2 linked regions of the Homo sapiens genome follow. The protein of the gene in region 1 interacts with the protein of each later gene in a pairwise test. Each region holds a gene or a part of one and is shown on either strand. Other genes may lie near its edges.

Evidence for each region. The genes of interacting proteins can lie anywhere in the genome.
Region 2: the proteins of GBP2 (region 1) and SERPINB9 interact in a two-hybrid assay, tested with the Homo sapiens proteins (one large-scale study listed by BioGRID and IntAct).

Annotation. Positions count from the first base shown.
Region 1 is NC_000001.11:89,112,615-89,116,114, forward strand, and holds part of GBP2 (guanylate-binding protein 2), read right to left. Parts: intron 1,683-3,500; coding exon 1,402-1,682; intron 71-1,401; coding exon 1-70.
Region 2 is NC_000006.12:2,893,310-2,896,809, forward strand, and holds part of SERPINB9 (serpin B9), read right to left. Parts: intron 2,882-3,500; coding exon 2,744-2,881; intron 2,200-2,743; coding exon 2,082-2,199; intron 245-2,081; coding exon 102-244; intron 1-101. UniProt on the Homo sapiens protein: Granzyme B inhibitor.

The sequences.
Region 1 (3,500 bases):
CCATGCAACAATCTGATGATGCTTTGGAATTCTGCTTACAAAAGTCATCTCGCCTTGCTTCCAACTGGGCCTGTGAAGTGACAAAACAGCACAGATGTTTCAGTAAAGCCATGAGGAGGATGTTAACTATGTGGAGACTGGAAAATGCTTCTCCTTCAGAAATTGTGGCCCTCTAAATAGGGCCATGCTCCTCACATTGCTGTTAGATCCTAGAATATCCCTAAGTTGTGCTTATTGCAGAAATTTATCTACTTCTCTGTTTGTGATTTCCTAAAGCTCCTTTCTCCCAGTTTTCCTGTTTCAGAGAATGATTCTCAAAGCACATACACTATTTCATACGAAACTTTTATCTTTCCAAGTCTCTCATTTCAGGAATAGTTCTGAGCACAAACACTGGAGTCAGGCAGCCTGCCTGGAGTTCCCGGATACACTACACTGTGGCTTGTGACACTCAGTCTTTGTGAACTGAGGATTCCTTGTCTGTGCAGCAGAGGAACAATACCTATCTCACAGATTTCTCTGCAGGGTTATATGAGGTGATGTAAAGTATTAAGCCCGGGGACTTTTTAGAAGTGCTCAGTAAGGAGTACATGATTATTTAGTACATTCTTTAACATAAGAATATTTTTGTGTATTTTCTCAGCATAGGGCTAATGAAAGTAATGAAGATTGTGCCATAGGTATTTTCAGTATTTGGAAAGTCTCATAGAACAGCACATTTATCTACATTAAATCACTCAAGATAACTTAACTATGAAGCTTTCTCTTTCCTCCTTAGGTTGGAAGGGTGACAATTGCTGACATCGGCTATCTAGCTTCACCAGAACCTCTGACTGTAGCAACGTATCATTTATAAGATCCTGCCTTCCTAGCTAGGGAAAGGACTTTCATTTGTCAAGTGGTCATTCTGCATGCAAAAATACTTTGTTCACTTGGAATGAGGCAGACATTAAAAACATTCTCTAATAAAATTTATATAATTAATTTCTCTTTCTTGGCCTTCTGAATATTTTACCATTGGCTCACATTTAAAAAAATTATTAGGGTTATTTAAAAATAATTTAGTCCCCACTGATAATTACCAGGGAACATAAAAACAATGTATTTTTTAATTTAAAAGGACAAAATAAGTTAAAATAGTCTTTAACAATGCAGTTGTACCATCTACTTACTTTCTTAAAATATGGGACCCAGAGAGGAAAAACTAACAAAAGCAAATTTTAGTAAAAAATTAGGTGTCTTTTTTTAAAGGTCTAAGGCTATGCACATTCTAGTCTTTTAATGATTATTTCAAATATGTACACATAACTGAGTGTAACTATTTTGGGGTCTAGAAAGAATTATTTTCCCATGAAGGGCCCATATTTTTCTGCCTCTCATGACGTAGAACACCAAATATACCCCTAATTTCCTCTGGAACATTTGGTCCACATCCTTGAAAGAGTTCTTCATGAAGACTTCAATGGCCTCTCTCTCACTGTCCCTGTGCAGGTCCAGCAGCTCCTGGAGGGTTTCCGTGGGCAGCTGCACCTTCTGGCCCATCTGCTGTTCATAGTGGGCAATAGCCTTTTCCACTGCGGCTGAGTTCTCTATCTGGGCCAAGGCCAGGACTGCGTTCTCCATGCAGGGTAGATCCCCACTGCTGATGGCATTGACGTAGGTCAGCACCAGGCTCTCTAGACCTGCAAAAGGGAATTTTTAAAAAAATGTGACTATCAGTTGGTGGGACAGAATATTTTGTGTGCTTTTCAAGTGAGTGTCACAAATAATACTTTTAAATAAGTTTTGGATAAAGAATAGTAATGGAATAATTTGTTAACCTCTAATCACAGAGGAAATTGAAGTGGCTCTTTCCTATTTCCTTCACCCAAAAGGAAGATATTGAAATGAATAGGTTAGGATATTTTGGGGCTGAGATACTAGGTCAATGTGTTTTCTTACCTTTCTTTTCTCTCACCTCTCCCTCTATTCCCTTTCTCTCTTCACTACTAATTTATGAAAAAAGTCAATGAGAAAACTTAGCCTTTTTATTTTTATTAATTTTAGTGGTGCAGACCACTAGTCACTAGTCTGGTGTCTGGCTTAGGTAAATATGTCTTCTTAGATATTCTCTCATCAGAACTACAGATAGGATAATCAACTCATCGAGTTTGCCAGGGCTTTGCTGGGTGTAGCACTGAAAGTCTCACATGCCAGGAAAACCTCATCTTAGGCAAACTGGAGTGGTTGATCACACAACAAAAGATGATTCTTTTTGACTCAATCCTGGACCTTCTCATCTCTCTGCGGTTTTAAGTACCATCTGTATGGATGGCTGGTGTATTTTGTTTCCTGCTTTGACATTTCTTTTAAGCTTTGGATTAAAAATAAGTTTTGCACCTTATTTTTAATGCCTATCTTATATTCCTTACTGCATAAATCAGAAGAATCTCAATATTAAATAATCTAAATATCAAAACTTCATCCACTCTGAAAAACTATTTCTCCTCTTGATGCTACTATCTCATTAAATAACACAGCCATTCAAGCAATTGCTAAACTCGAAACGCTGGAGACAGGCTTGGCATTTCCTTCTTATTCCCTTCATAAATCCATATTCCCTCTATCAACAGGCCTTTTAGATTTAATATCCAAAGTATGTTCGGATCTTGTCCATTTTCACCATTTTCACTGTCATAATCTGAGACTAACCCAATGCCCATTTATGGCTCAACCACTGCAAATAGCATCCATCCTCTCATTCCCTCCCTTTCACTACTCCAACAAATTATCTACAAAATATTCAGAAAGATATGTATAAACATAAATTAGATAACCTTACCTCACTGCCAAAAATTCTTCAAGATCTTCTCTAGAGCTTAGACAAACTCTAATCTCCTCAAAGTCCTCTGCCAGTCCTTTCAAGACCTGACCCCTTTATACCCCTCCAATTATGACACCACTCTTATTCAGTCTTCTCTTGTTCCAATCGCCTGTCTTTCTTCTATTTTCGTTTAAAAAATTGAGATGGAATTCTGGTCTGTCACCCAAGCTGAAGTGCAGGGCATGATCATAGCTCACCATAGCCTTGAACTCCTGTGCTCATGCTGGGTCCTCCTGCCTCAGCCTCCTGAGTAGCTAGGACTCTGGGCAAGCACCACTGCACTTGGCTGATTTTTAATTTTTTCATAATGATGAGGTCTTGCTACTTTTCCCAGGCTGGTCTTAAACTTAAACTCCTGGGCTCAAGGAATTCTCCCACCTTGGCCTCCCAAAATGCTGGGATTACAGGCATTAGCCTCCTGTGTTCTATTTTCTTGAAGTTGCAAAGTTCTATCCTGCCCTATGCATTTCCACATTACATTATTTGCTATAAAGCTATTCCTCTATATGCTTTGGTTAGCTCTTAACCATTTATTTAATATATATATATATTGGAGACAGGGTCTCACTCTGTCTCCCAGGCTGGAGTGCGGTGGTGCAGTCTCCGCTCACTGCAACCTCTGCCTCCCAGGCTCAAG
Region 2 (3,500 bases), on another chromosome or scaffold:
TCCTTTTGGCTTACGCTTATGTCACTTACACTTTTACAAAGTTAAATCTTTCCATTCAACTTCTTCATCAAACTAGCAGGATTTTAAAAAGCTTCCCCCACCTGGTTTATTTTAAAGGGCATTTCCCTTGTGTATGTTTCGTCAAACGGTTCATTCCACTTTCCTTTGAAGTAGATGGCATTGACAAGAACCAGCCTGGTTTCTGCATCAATTGAGCTACCCGGCAACAACTCTTCAATTTTACCTTTCAAGAAAAGTAGAGACTACATTCAGTTGCTTTTTATAAGAACCTGATGCATTGGATGATCCTGGATCATTAGTTGAGAAGCAAACTTCTGTTTTCAACTTTGCTGAGTTTGGGTTGTTATGTAGAGAAATAAAAACAGCACATATGAGTGGTATTCATGATTACTGACACCTTGAGAACATCCACCAAGTTGAGGATGGTGAAAGATACCTAAGTCACTCGAGGAAAGCAGGTTGGTACAAAGTAGAAAAATTACACCAGGTTGGAGAACAAGACCAGCAGGAAATGTGATAGGCTGAAGGGGTGTTTGTCTCACATGGTTAATTGGAGTGTTTGATCCAACCCTTCATGATCACACCCAGTTCTAACATTCTGTGACTATACATGGACATGTCAGAAGCAACCAGAATGGACGGCTCAAAGCGGGAAGAGCTGACATTGGGCACATGGGGAGTTTCCAGAAGCTTTTGGAGGAGATATTCCTGCTGAATCCCCTCAACAAAGCACTAGGCATCCCTGGAAAAGAGGATGTGGGCAAACAAAGATCACCCCTTCTTTCCCTGGAGATCAAGTGGTACTGTTTCAATGAACTGAGGGCATCCCTGCTAACCCACTGCCTGAAGAGAGCATCCGTGGTAAATACTCCAAGCAGGAATGCGGGAAACAACTGCTGAGACTTTAAGCGAAGAACGTCTCCCATTCTTTACCGTCTCATTTATTCACAGAAATGGAAATGTTCCTGGTGGTACTAAGCATAATTGGCGCAGAGGAGTCTGAATGGTTCATCAGACCATCATTGGTCTTGGAGGCCTAGACTGGAACACGTCACTTTCTGAAATGTAGATGAATAAGGTTCAACCCCAAATGGAGGGTATTTTCAGTCTGTGGAACTGATCAGCCCTGAGAGAGGGTCGGCAGTTAACCAATCAAATGTAGGCTTATCAAGTCAAACTAAAGGAGCTTAAGTGGAAGACATGAAAAGTCAGGAGTGACCTTAGCAGGTAAAGGTAATGGTGATGGAGGTCCCCCAGAACCTAGGAAGAGGCAGCCCAAGTGTATACCTCAGGCAAGATCTGTCCACCAATCTCCTTCTCGCAGAGACAATGGAGTCACCTGACATGTGAATGTTACAGGCCAGGGAGAGTATATTTTAATGCAAGTTATTAAACTGGAAACCTGGCCTGAGATTCTTTTGACATTTGTTTTTTTGTTTGTTTTTTGTTTTTGAGACAGGCTGGAGTTCAGTGGCATGATCTCAGCTCACTACAACTTCTGCCTCCCAGGTTCAAGTGATTCTCATGTCTCAGCCTCCCAAGCAGCTGGGATTACAGGCATGGGCCACCACACCTGGCTAATTTTTGTATTTTTAGTAGAGATGTTGGGCGGGGGGGGGTCCCACCATGTTGGTCAGGCTGGTCTCGAACTCCTGACCTCAAGTGATATGTCCACTTCGGCCTTCTAAATTGCTGGGATTACAGGCGAGAGCCACCGTGGCTGGCCCTCTTTTGACATTTGTATCAGCTACTCTGGTCCTGGGAGAATAGACAAAAGTAAATCTCTGTTGCTGAAAACCTGAATGTCTGATCAGAACCTTTATGAGTCCATCAAGGTTCAGTATGCCAGGAGGCCCTGCCAGTCAACACTACTCTGACCATCTGAAACACCCGTGAAATTAGAGGGGGCGGAGTGGAGAGGTGGAGGTGGGTGAGGAGAGGGAGGAGGGATAGGAGGGAGAGGAGGAGGAGAGAGGATATAAGAGGCGGGAAGGAGGAATAGGAAGAGCCGCAGGAGGAGGACGGGTTGGGAGGAAGGTGCAATAACTTGTCATTCTGACCTTCGGTCTTTTTTGAGACCCAGGTGTTGATGTGTTTCCTGGACTCTTCTGCAGCTCTGATAAAGGAAAGCTCCTTCAGCTCAGCATGGTAGAATTGAAGACAGGATTCCTTAAACGTCTTTGGAGAGAAAAATGTTCAGTGAGGCTGCATTGCTAAATACAAATGTCAGCAAACTTCCAAAAATTCTAAATATGTTATCTTTTTTTAATAAAAAGAATATACATAACTCTTTAAAAGTGATCATATGAAGATATGTTAAAATATCAGAGTTTGTGAATAGGTATGTATTGAACCCTGAATAACCAGAAATGAACTTGAGAATTTTACCTTTCAATTTTACCTTTCAAGAAAAGTAGAGACTACTTTTGCAATACTAATGCAAGGTATAATTATAGAATTGCAGTCTTTAAAAAAAAAAAGAAGTTTAGGCTGGGCGTGGTGGCTCACATCTGTAATCCCAACAGGCAGGAGGATCACTTGAGACCAGGAGTTTAAGACCAGCCTGGGCAACGTAGTGAGACCCCATCTTAGAAAAAAAAATAGTGCAATTTTTTTAAATTGGTTAACATAAATTTCTCAATTTCTCTAGGGTCTTTCTCCCAGACTCTATATCACCAGGTATGTTGAATGCAACTTTTATTGTTCTATTGATTCAACTTACTGAGAGGAACTGACAAGTTTTCTCTCCAAAGAGCCTGTTGGCCGTTCTCAGCAGGTACTGTGTGCCAGCCTTGTTCACTTCAGTGAGAAGCGACTGGAAAGCCCGATGAATGTCTTCCTCTGTGTTTAAAGACAGTGCCTGTTGTGAAAGATAATTTTAAAAGTTATCAAGATAGCTCTTTGATGGCTGGGGAGAGGAGAGAGAGGGGACAGAAAACAGGCGAGTAAAAGATGTAGCCATTCTGCCTGAATGGATCTCGCTTGTTTAAAGATCAGTAACACACAAAAAATGACAAGGGTGAGAAAAGCTCAGAAAAGAGGTTGTGATAAAATCTTGCATCAAAAGGAAAATATAAATGTACCCTAAGTGGTGGGAAAATTACCTCTAAAATTTATAGTGAAAAAAAAAGATGCAGTTAAAAAGTTAAAAGCAGAAAAAATGCATGGAAAAATAGACGGAAATACAATCATCAGAATCCTCAAAAGGAAACAAGGATATTACATGAGCAATGTGATTAATAAGACAATAACACAGTTATTAAAATTGTACCCTATAGGGACTACATGTGTGTATATTAAATATTTCAAAATATATCACACATATTGGGCCATAAGAAAAGTCTCAACATCCCAATACATTCTGAAATACAGAATTATATAGATCATATTCTCTAACTTCAATGTAGTAACAAAAAATCAGCATTATAAATAAAATGCCAACAAAATGAAAATCACCTACAAAATATTACTGAAAACAC